Regions from separate parts of the Homo sapiens genome. Here region 1 is linked to region 2. The links come from fine-mapping of genetic effects on gene expression. Tissue or cell type: whole blood. Region 2 holds a variant in brackets; the other region holds the start of a gene. All regions are shown on one strand. Distances are between the middles of the regions.

Region 1 (6,560 bases), 65 kb before region 2:
TTGAGGATGCTTTCAACTTGGTGGAGTCCATTTCAAAGACACTTTCTATTGAAACCTTTTTCTTGTGTTTGGGTCATACTTTATTTCTTTTCATCTTTCATAATTTTTATTAAAAACTGTACATATATGTGTCAACTCTGGAAATCAGATTTCTACATACACCCAAAGTTTCTCATTCCTGCTGTTGTTGTTTGTTTCAGGACTTCTCTGAACCAATTCTGTAGTCTGTATTCTTTGTCACATGTGGCCACTGGAGTCACTGCAGTCTCTGGTTTGCTTAGTGGTCAGCTAATAACTAGACAGACATATCTTTGGATGACTGGAACTAACAAGTCTCCCAGTCTTTGCCAAAGGACTGTCTATGAGTATTAAGGCATGCCTTCAATGCTCGGGCAGGCAATTTACAACTCCATCTTAGCCTCTACTTCTTTCTTAAACAGAGTCTCAAGGTAAGTCATAGGTGAGAGGCATTTGCAGGTCTTTCCTGGGCATATACATAGCTCTATGCATGCACTTGGCCTTCTAGATTCCCAGGAATATGTCAGGAGCTTTCCAAAGCCCCCTATGGACATATCACTTCCCAACTGATCCTTTTAAGATTTTCGGTCAGCTTGTTGTTTGCCTCCCAACTGTATCACTGCCTGCCTGTTTCATGCTGTTATAACAGAATACCTGAGACTCGGTAATTCATAAGGAATAGAAATTTATTGGCTTATGGTTCTGGAGGCTGAGAAAGCTAGTATCGAGGTGCCAGCATCTGGCAGGGGCCTTCTTGCCGCATCATAACATGATGGAAGGCATTACATGGCAAAAGGGCAAAGAGAGGGCAACAGGCGCACGCACACACACACACACACACACACACACACACACACACCACACAGAGACAGAGAGAGAGAGAGAGAAAGAAGAGGGCCAACTTTCCCACTTTTATAATGAACCCATTCCCCAGATAATGGCATTAATCCCTTTACTCTGCCCTCATGGCCTATCACCTCTCATTAGTCCCTACCTTCCAACATTTTTACATTGGGGATTAAGTTCCCACACATGCCTCTGATAGCTGTGATATTTAAAATTGCCACTGAACATTTGACAAACATACTTGGTGAGTTTGAAGTCAGACTAAATAACAATAAGCCTCATGAGTGAGATTTTCCAAGGAACTATCAAACATGTCGAATAATAACAGTTGTCTGGCTTTGGAGTGGGTCAAATTCTGTTTTGTCCCCTCTACCAGTTGCTAAGTCACTATTTTTCACTGTGATTACTGTGGTTATCTAGGCTGACACGGGGCTGGGAGAAAAGTATAGGACTATGGCAAGTTAAAATGCCAAAAACCTTGCTGTTGTTACAAAAATCCAGCTGTTTTTCTTTAGTAAACACTCTACAAATTGTTGCAAGCCTTTGGTTAATTTCCAGAGTTCTGAAAAAGTCGATATTGATGATTTTTGCCACTGTTCTTGTTGATTTTATGGAGGAGAGGATTTCAGGCATAGATCCTATTTCACCATTCTGGCTGATGTCATCCCACTAAATCTTTATAAATTATTTATTTTACTAATAGCTGCACACATCTCTGAACCTCTCTCCAACTTAGCCTTCCCCTAAAAATGGAGATTAAAATTTAGCAGTGAGGCTCAGGTGGAAGCTTTTGAGCTAGTTGCCACAAAACATTATTTAACAACTATTAGGTAAATCTAAACCAGGTAGTGCAGAAATGCATATGCAGGAAAGTGAATGTGTGGGACTAATTGTGCTTTTCCAAAACTGGCCATGTTGGTACTGTTTCTTTCCTTTTACATGGCAAAAGTCCGCTGCTAACCTCATAAAACCTCCACTGCATAAATATCCACTAGTGAAGAATGACTGGCTGTCACTCTGCATCTGGTGCAGGGGGCACTATTGCTACAGAAGCTCGGGCAATGACATGAAGATACTTCAAATTGCCAAAGTTCTAGTTGTCACCATGACAACATTAATTGCTAATTTACAGACGTAAGAAACTGTTGTAGCTAGAATTGATAGAGTTCTTTAGAAGTCTATTTCTATTCCAAAATCAAATTGTTATAACAGGTCACCTGAATTACAGTACTTTATGTCACACGATTTTTTTTTAACTCTCTAAAAGCATTTGACTTAGAGAGAGACCTTATATTTACTTTAGAGAGGAGGAAATGGAGATATTTCCTTCAGAGACTTTTAGTAAAGACCAATCAGCAGGTTTGCAGAAGAGCCAAGCCTCTAAAGAGGTGACTTATATTTCCAAGAGATATTCCAATTCAATCAGTGAATAACAAACTTTAAGCGTGCGGGAAATTTAACAAAACCCAGACTCTCAGAGCTGCAACTGCGCAGTTTTAGGTCAGCTGGGGCTGGGGGTGGGGGTCTCTGATTTCCTATCTTTTCTCCACCCCTATTTCTGTAAACATTCTCCCACCCACTTCCACTCCCCGTTTCCCTCCTTCACCCATTCACCTGAGGGCAAGACGGCCTAACTTCACACAGAGCCCAAAGATGCTTATTGAGGATGCTTTCGACCTGGTGGAGTCCATTTCAAAAGGCAACTGAAGCCCTCATTCGGCATCCTCGCCTCTCACTCCATGCCGGGGGTCCAGAAACAATCCCTGTCCCTGGATAGGTCAGTTTAGCTCACCTGTACTTTCCTTCGCCCGTCCACAGCGCCGTCCAAACCGTACCAGCATCTCTGACGAGGTGTCCATGATGCTCCTAGATCTGGAAAAGTGACTGTGGCGCCAAGCGCCGCGGACGCCAGCCGGTGGAGTTGTTACTCGTACCACGCGGTTGCTTGGCAACGCCGCCGGAAGTGACGCCAGCCGTAGCCGAGGAACAAGGGAGGTGCTGCAGTTGGCGGTCGGGCTAGAGAAGAGAGGCGCCTGCGCTTGCGAGCTGGGCTTGTGAGTGGGGCTGCCGAGAGGGCAGGCGTGGGGCGAGGCCAAAGGACTGAACCCGCAGGAGCGTCACGGGCGCCGGGGCGGCTGCCGACGGCGGGACTGGGTCAGTGAGAAGCCCGTGGGCCCCCGCCCTGCCTGCTACTCCCATCCCCACCTGCGCGCTCCCCATGGGGGACGACCCCCGATTGGGTCCGATGCCTACCCTCGGGGTGGAGCCGGCAGGTGTGTGAGCGCGCGAGGCCTAGGCGTGGTGTGTGCGTCCGCAGATCTCCTCGCGGGTGGAGTGTGAGGAGCAAAGCCCTCCCTTAACTATAAAAACCCGCGGATTCGCTGACATAAACGCTGTTTTTTTAATCCTTTGGTTTCTGAGGCATGGTCAGGACTAGATGGGGCCAAGTTTTTTAAAAATAGGAATGTTAAAACGTAATGATATGCTTAGAATATTTACGTTAGGACCTTTGAGATATTTTAAATTTCTTGGTAAATACATGACCACAGAAATCTGTTAGGAGTAGCTGCGCGTTTGGTTTCAAAAGATGCTTTTCTAACACATTGATGTACAGATAACTTCATTACTAACAAGTTGGCTCTGACGTGTACACATAATGCACCAAATTGGAGTCTCTCAAAATGAAAGAACAAAAAGATTTTTAATAACGAATGTTCTAACACATAGTCGTGCTATTTTTCTTTAGGTTTTCTATCAGATGTTCCACGTAATAATGCTGGTAAGTATGGAATAATTAAGAAAATATTTGAAGACAGAAATTAGTTTGTGCACATACAGCGCTGGTAGGTTTTTGGAACTATACCTTAAAAAGTGTCAAGAACTGGGGGCCAGGCGCGGTGGCTCACGCCTGTAATCCCAGCACTTTGGGAGGCCGAGGCGGGCGGATCACGAGGTCAGGAGATCGAGACCATCCTGGCTAACACGGTGAAACCCTGTCTCTAGCAAAAATACAAAAAAATTAGCCAGGCGTGGTGGCGGGCGCCTGTAGTTCCAGGTACTCTGGAGGCTGAGGCAGGAGAATGGCGTGAACCTGGGAGGCGGAGCTTGCAGTGAGCCGACCATCGTGCCACTGCACTCCAGCCTGGGCGACAGAGCGAGACTCCGTCTCAAAAAAAAAAAAAGTTTCAAGAACTGGGAAGGAACAGAGATTTTTACCCTGTTTGCAGGCTAACTTAGCCTGGCAGTTTCATGGAAGACACAAGACTATTCATTTCAGGAATGAATTACTCCCAGCAGTAGCCAGTAAATCAGCAATTTCGCCTGAGTTCCCTAAAGCCCCAGTTCCCACAGGATAATGCAAAGTGGGCAAGAAGTCACCTAGATGTAGTGTGTGTCGAATTACAGGAAAGGAGCCCTGAGCTTAGGGAACCCAGATCTTTATCATTTGGACAAATAAGCATGTTTCTCAAGGCTGTCCAGTGTACAAACATCCTTGAGACAATAGTCTAGAGGAAAGGGCAGTCAGTAAGACATGCAGAACCACCAGAGACGCAGGGAAAATTGTCTCCCAACAACAATTTTCTGGAATTTTAACAAAATTGGTTACAAAAGTATTGAATCTCATGATTTGATGTCAGTTACTTGCCAATTTGACATGGTGGTCAGATATAATTTGACTTCAGACTCGAGATTCCAGCTCCAACCTGTGGATTGTCACAACCAAGTCAATCTAGAGTTATTTGTCCTATACCCACCACTCTTTTATTTCTTTGTTGTGAATTTAATAAGGTAGCATATGCACTCTGATCTGAAACAGAGTTTAAATTATTCTGAGAAGAAAAAAATTTTATTACAAAATTGATGTAGAAAAAGTGTGAACTACGGTTGAACCAACCATAACCATCCCACTGCACATGTAAACATTTTCTAAAACAAAAACAGGATTATACTGTACACACTATTTTGTGACTTGCTTATTTAATTTGAACTGAATATCTTGGCTTTTACTGGCTGGATATTCTGTTATTTGCTATCACATGCATATCTTACTTAATTATTTCCCAATTCTTGGATGTCTGTGTAGTTTTTAATTTTCATTATTGTGTAAAGTATGCAGGATATTGTTACACTATGGAAACATTGCAGACATACCAAATAGACATAGATTGTGCTTTTGAAGAGAACAGTTAACTTTTTGGAATTTTAACAAATTGGTTTCAAAACAGATTCACATTCTTAAAACTAAATCTTTGTTCATATTCTTAATTTTTGGAGACATTTTAATTTCTAGTACAGCACTAAATGTCTATTGACAACAGAATGTGGAACTCCTCTATTATTAAACAAGTACAAAGAAAAAATGGACTCTGAAAATCTCAATCAGCTTAACACTGATTTTATCCACTGGACAAAAACTTATTTTCACATAACATTTCTTATTTTCGACACCAAGTCGATACCAAGTGGAAAGCAAAACTTTGTTCTCCTATTGCCAAAAGATGCTTTTCTGACATTAGAAAAACAACATAATTAGAAAATACAAAAAAAAAAATTTTTTTTTTTTTGACACGGAGTCTCGCTCTGTTGCCCAGGCTAGAGTGCAGTGGCGCGATCTCGGCTCACTGCAAGCTCCGCCTCCCAGGTTCATACCATTCTCCTGCCTCAGTCTCCCAAGTAGCTAGGACTACAGGTGCCCGCCACCACGCCCAGCTAATTTTTTGTATTTTTAGTAGAGATGGGGTTTCACTGTGTTAGCCAGGATGGTCTCCATTTCCTGACCTCGTGATCCCCCGCCTCGGCCTTCCAAAGTGCTGGGATTACAGGCGTGAGCCACTGCGCCCGGCCTGAAAATACAAATGTTAAAGCTTTTAAAATACTTTTATTAATTTTAGGAGTTAAGAAGTTTCCATTATTTTGCTCCAAACCAGAAGACTCTGTTCCCTGTATATAGAATAGGAGTAATATTTGAAAACAACTGGCTGATGTTTAAAACTGAAGATTGTCATGATTGTTTATCCTAATCCCAATGCTGAAGTAAGATTGTCTTGGAAATACTAAGTTGGGTAAGTATTTTTTAAAGGTTTATGTTGAGTGGTGAGAAAATACTAACAGAAAAAGATGGGAAAATTTTAAAAGTGCACTTTCAGATCAGCAGGGGAACTATGTTACCTCAGTCTCATGCTATTTTGAGGCTAATAATTCAGGAATTTCAGTAATTTGTGGCTAATTAAGTTTAGGTTTGAGGCAGTTTTCAAACAACAGTGAGTTACATTTGAAATTTGTTTTAATTATAAATTCAGAATTCTCAAAAAGCATATTTAATTTAAAATGTGCCTAGTTACAGTACTACTGTGATTGTCAATTATGCCTTATTATTTATTACATTGTTTCTGTAGGAAAGTGAATTCTGCATTTAAATTTCAGGGAACCAGTCAGAAGCATCTGGATTAGGCATTTAGTGATACAAGGATCCAGAATAACAAAAACTATGTACCAGCCACATTCACACAACAGGTGATACCCCTATAGGTTAATTATTCTCTAGATATTCTAAATTAAGAGACACAGAATACTTAGTCTTATGTGAGTCAAGAGCTCTATTCTGTCTTCACTACTGGGTGTCTACTGTTATAAACTGGAGAATATGTGTGGTTAAATGCCATGTTTTTCATTTTTAATTGATCTTTTTCTTATTG
Region 2 (5,736 bases):
CACTGCTCCTCACTGCTTCAGGATGCTGTTCCCAGGCTGTAGCAGCTGTGGCTCAAATGACCCCAGGAACCCCAGATAAGATTGGTGCTGCTGCTCCAGAGGGCACGAGGTGGAAGCCTTGGTGATATCCACGTGGTATTAATTCTGCAGGCCCACAGAATGCAAGAGCTATGGAGATGTGGCTTCCACTTAGATTTCAGAGGATTTATTGGAAAGCCTGGGTGCCCAAGCAAAAGCCTGCGGCAGAGTCAGACCCTTCACAGCCAGCCTCTGCGAGAGTAATGCCTGGTGGATTTGCAGGAGGGCCACTGCCTTCCAGCCCCCAGAATGATAGAGCCACCAGCAGTGTGTACCTTCAGCCTGGAAAAGCCTCTGGCATTTGACTCCACCTTATGAGAGCAGCCACATGGGCTGCACCCAGAAAAGCCACAGGGATGGGTCTGCTCAAGGCCTCAGGACCCACCAGTGTGCCCAGGTTGTGGGACATAGAGGAGATTATTTTGGAGTTTTAAGATTTAATGCCTGCCCTGCTGGGTTTTGGACACGCATGGGGCCTATTACCCTTTTCTTTTCACTGATTTCTCCCATTTGACATGGGAATGTTTGACATGGGAATGCCTGTATAACCATTGTATCTTGGAATGAAATAACTTGTTTTTTATTTTACATGCTCATAGCTGAAAGGAACTGTTCTTGAATCTCAGATGAGATTTTGGACTTTGGACATTTGAGTTGGTACTGGAACAACTTAAGACATTTGGGACCGTTGAGATGGATGATTGTACTTTACATGTGGGAAGGACATCAGTTTTGGGGGCCAGGGGTGGAATGCTATGGTTTGGAAATTCTTCCCCTCCAAACCTCATGTTGAAATTTGATCCCCAGGATTGGAGATGGGGCCTAATGGGAGGTGTTTGAGTCATGGGGGCAGACCTAGAGCTGTGGTTGGCCAAGTTCCCTGCTGTTGGGACTAAGCTGGCGTGAATGAAGAGAACAGATACAGATGCCCAGTGACTGGGGATGGGGGATGATGTTAACGTCTGGTTCTAGGCCTTCCTGACACAGTTCCATTCCTGTCTTTTCCACAGTTGGATGGTGATGTGACCCAATAGATCCTTTTTTGTTTTGAATCAAGTTTCTATCTCTTGCAACGAAAAATATGCTAAGTCAAGGAAGGGCTTTGTCCCTTGTTAAAATGTAAATATTTTTGGAAAGTGTATTGTGTTTTCTATCACTTCTGTAAGAAATTACCACAAACTTAGTAGCTTAAAGTAATACAAATTTATTTTATAATTCTGCAGGATAGAAGCGTGGTACAGGATTCACCATATCAGTGTTAGGAGCCTTAATTCTCCTTTCCATGTAACCTGATACACAGATTCCAAAGATCAAGATGTAGACATCTTTAGGGGACCATTATTCTGCATACCACAGATAGTGATATATTGTCTTATCCTGACTTTCGCAATTCCATTTGATTTGAGAGGAGTTTCTGACAGAAAGAAAAAGAAAAAAACAAAAAACAATGATGGGTGTCAGGAACTCCTGAGGAGTGGAAGATAGAAAGTAGGTTTAGGAAAAAAAAAAAGAAGTTGGTGACAGGGTCATTGACTATTAGACCATTCTGCCAAGGGCTGGAAGCAAAATATAATGCAAGAGAAGTGACTAATTGTGTCAAAGATGTAGATTATCAAGAGCCCCAGGTCTTTTTGCATATTAGGAGGCCATGTAACTTGAATCTTAATTACCCTAAGCCAATCATGGATAGTCCATCCTCCTTGCCAGTGTTTGGTGGAGGAATGTATGTGAAGCAGTTCTAACCTCTAAGATATTAGAAGAAGGGTTCTAGGGGGGTGGTCCTCTACCAAAAAAAAAAAAAAAAAAAAAGGTTTTTGCTCCTAGGAGAGAGAAAGACTCAAGGTGATAAAGAGTTCATCTTTCTTGAGGCTAATATAAAAAGTTGTTTTCACATAATTTATTTGCCAATTATTATTTTGAGACAAAGTCTTGCCTGTTGCCCAGTCTGGAATGCAGTGGCCGGATCTCAGCTCACTGCAACCTCCGCCTTCTGGGTTCAAGTGATTCTCATTCCTCAGCCTCCCAAGTAGCTGGGATTACAGGTACCCCACCACCTCCAGCTAATTTTTGTATTTTTAGTAGAGATGGGATTTCACCATGTTGGCCAGGCTGGTCTCGAACTCCTGACCTCAAGTGATCTGTCTGCCTTGGCCTCCCAAAGTGCTGGAATTACAGGCATGAGCCACTGTGCCTAGCCCAATTATTATTAAATGTCAATCTATATAAGACAACCAAAGTATTTCATAATATCAAGTATTTCATAAGGTGTTTTAGCTATAGCAATTATTATTTAACAGCTAAGAAATAGAGCAGTGTAAGAAAATAATATTTATAAAGTTATGAAATATCAATACTGATATTAAGGCTTCATTAGGCCAGATGTGGTGATCACACCTATAATCCCAGCACTTTGGGAGGCCCAGGCTAGAGAATTACTTGAGGCCAGGAATTTAAGACCAGCCTGTGCAACTCTATCTCTACAAAAAAATCCAAAAAATTACCTGGGCGTGGTGACACATGCCTGTAGTCCTAGCTACTCAAGAGGTTGGGGTGGGAGGGTCACTTGAGCCTAGGAGTTTGGGGCTGCAGTGAGCTATGATCATGCCACCACACTCCAGCCTGGGTGACAGAGTGAGACCCTCTCTCTCAAAAAAAAAAAAAAAGAAAAAAAAAGCTTCATTAACTATCACAGTAGTAAATAACACAACTTACCAATGTTTCACATTTGAAAGACTCTATATGAAATTAATTCTATTGTCAAGAAATTAAATGAGAGGAATTCTCATTTTTATTGAAGGTAATAAATAAAGCATCACCTAACATTATATACTAGTCGTTTTTCTTATTTATTTATTTATTTTCTCTTGAGACGGAGTCTCGCTCTGTTGCCCAGGCTGGAGTGCAGTGGTG[C/T]GATCTCTACTCACTGCAAGCTCCACCTCCCGGGTTCACACCATTCTCCTGCCTCAGCCTCCTGAGTAGCTGGGACTACAGGAGCCCGCCACCACGCCCGGCTCATTTTTTGTATTTTTAGTAGAGACAGGGTTTCACCGTGTTAGCCAGGATGGCCTCGATCTCCTGACCTCGTGATCTGCCCGCCTTAGCCTCCCAAAGTGCTGGGTTTACAAGCGTGAGCCACCGTGTCTGGCCTTTTTTTTTTTTTTTTTTTTTTTCTGAGACGGGATTTTGCTCTTGTTGCCCAGACTGGAGTGCAGTGGCGCGATCTTGGCTCACTGCAACCTCTGCCTCCTGGGTTCAAGCGATTCTCCCGCCTCAGCCTCCTGAGTAGCTGGGATTACAGGCATGTGCCACCACGCCTGGCTAATTTTGTATTTTTAGTAGAGATGGGGTTTCTACATGTTGGTCAGGCTGGTCTCGAACGCCCGACCTCAGGTGATCTCCCCCGCCTTGGCCCCCCAAAGTGCTGGGAATACAGGTGTGAGCCACCACACCCGGCCAAGATATACTAGTCCTTTTACAAAAGAAGACATGTATGTGGCCAAAAAGCCTATGAAAAAAAGGTCGGTATCACTGATCATTAGAGAAATGCAAATCAAAACCACAGTGAGGTAATATCTCACACCAGTTAGAATAGCTATTACTAAAAAACGAAAAAAATAACAGATGCTGGTGAGGTTGTGGAGAAAGGAGAACATTTATACACTGTTAGTGGGAGTGTAAATTAGGTTCAGCCATTGTGGAAAGTAGTGTGGTGACTCCTCTAAGAGCTAAAAACAACTATCATTTGACCCAGCAGTCCCATTACTGGGTATACATATACCCAAAGGAATATAAATCATTTTACCATAAAGACACATGCCTGCAAATGTTCATTGCAGCACTATTCACAATAGTAAAGACATGGGATCAACCTAAATGTCTGTCAATGACGGATTGCAAAAAGAGAATGTGGTACACATACATCATGGGATACTATGCAACCTTAAAAAGGAGTGAGATCATGTCTTGTGGGAACATGGATGGAGCTGAAGGCTATTATTCTTAGCAAACTAATGCAGGAAGAGAAAACCAAATACTGCATGTTTTCACTTATAAATGGAAGCTAAATTCTGAGAATCCATGAACACAAGGGAGCAACAAACACTTTAGGGTGGAGGGTTGGAGGAGGGAGAGGAGCAGAAAAAATAACTATTGGGGCCAGGTGCAGTGGCTCACACCTGTGACCCCAGCATTTTGAGAGGCCAAGGCGGGTGGATCACTTGAGGTGAGGAGTTCAAGACCAGCCTGGCCAAAATGGCAAAACCCCGTCTCTACTAAAAGTATAAAAATTAGCCAGGCATGGGTGTGCATGCTTGTAATTCCAGCTACTCTGGAGGCTGAGACATGAGAATTGCTTAAACCCAGGAGGCAGAGGCTGCAGTGGGCTGAGATCATGCCACTGCACTCCAGCCTGTGCAACAGAGCGAGACTCTGCTTAAAACAAACAAAAAACACTGTTGGGTACTAGGCTTAATGCCTGGGTAATGAAATAATCTGTTCAACACACCCCCATGACACAAATTAACCTGTATATCAAACCTGCACATGTACCCCTGAACCTAAAATAAAGGTTGAAAAACAAAAACAATATAGTAGTCTTTAGTAAAATTGGGGTATATAAATTATAAAAATTCAAGAAAAGAAGAAGTTGTGACACAAATTTTATGGACTATATAGCAATGAACATAAAAATATGGCCAACAGAACTGTCTTCTTAAAATCCGGGGCATCGTCATACAGTCTTTAACTCTGAATTGAATTTCGATGTTATTTTGAAGTTGTGAGTCATAGACTGTTAAACTCGTACTGGGGCCCTCTGAGTTAAAAGATAATATTTTTGTGGGGGCCTCACTGGACGGGTGTTGAGCATCCTGCTCAAACCTCCAGTGAATATTGCAGATCCCAACTGGCCGCCTCCTAAGGGTGTTCTGAGCTGGTTTAGGAAGAGTCACTGCAAATTGTGCCACGTTGGATACACAAGATTGCCAACATTTCAACTTTTACCTTTGAAATTCAAAACAGACCACAAGATTGTATACCTACAAGTACCTACAGAGGTTCTCGTTGGGAAATCTGAAGTACCAGCACTGTATCCATCAGCCTTAATAGACTGTAGTTAATTATTACCCACTCCCCAACCTTTGTTCAGTGGCATTTAAAAGTCAGGCTGAGCATGTATAATCTGTGAACACTTTCAGCAGAGACTTGTGAAATACATCTTTCATTTGAAAGTTCACAGACAAACTTTTGTTTCTAGTTCTTTCCTGGACAGATAAATACATAAAAGTGGTACTTGTGGTTTCCCGAAGGTGTGTTTCTGCAGCCCTTCTCTAACCCTTTATAGCTTTTCCCTCCTCACACCTTGACCATCAAGGAAATGAGTCGTACCTTCTTCCCTGTCGAGAGAACACAGGCCCTCCTTGTGCGCGGGCAGACATTTGAGATTAGAGCTTTACTAGTTGTATGATTTTTTGAAAACTTTATTTACTGTTAAATATGATACGAATACAGAAATCCACATGAGACAAATGTACAGCTTGAGTTATTAAAGGGCAACTACCTTGCAACTGGCATCCATGTCAGGAGAGAATACCTTGCCAACTACCCCAGACACCCTCCACATGTATCTCCTAAACCCTTATCGATAACCTCTGTCTTCAC

What was found. PIP is the estimated chance that this variant, and not a neighbour inherited with it, causes the effect. A credible set is the group of variants that fine-mapping cannot tell apart.
Region 1: it holds the start of PHOSPHO2, and the variant in region 2 is the best candidate, but not a certain one, in a credible set for the expression of PHOSPHO2 in whole blood (TOPMed, PIP 0.80).

The regions. Positions count from the first base shown.
Region 1 is chr2:169,691,605-169,698,164 of GRCh38, forward strand. PHOSPHO2 (phosphatase, orphan 2) reads left to right here and starts at 2,865. Exons shown (of 4, transcript NM_001008489.4): 1 at 2,865-3,018; 2 at 3,611-3,643; 3 at 5,757-5,927. It overlaps CFAP210 (cilia and flagella associated protein 210), which reads right to left and starts at 2,801. Exons shown (of 9, transcript NM_001085447.2): 1 at 2,657-2,801. The coding sequence starts at 2,723. It overlaps PHOSPHO2-KLHL23 (PHOSPHO2-KLHL23 readthrough), which reads left to right and starts at 2,865. Exons shown (of 5, transcript NR_144936.2): 1 at 2,865-3,018; 2 at 3,611-3,643; 3 at 5,757-5,927. RefSeq lists an enhancer at 2,584-2,763 and a silencer at 2,894-3,173.
Region 2 is chr2:169,756,545-169,762,280 of GRCh38, forward strand. No RefSeq gene overlaps it. Among named protein-coding and RNA genes, the nearest start is that of KLHL23, 26 kb to the left of the region's middle. The variant C/T (reference allele first, on the strand shown) is at 2,989.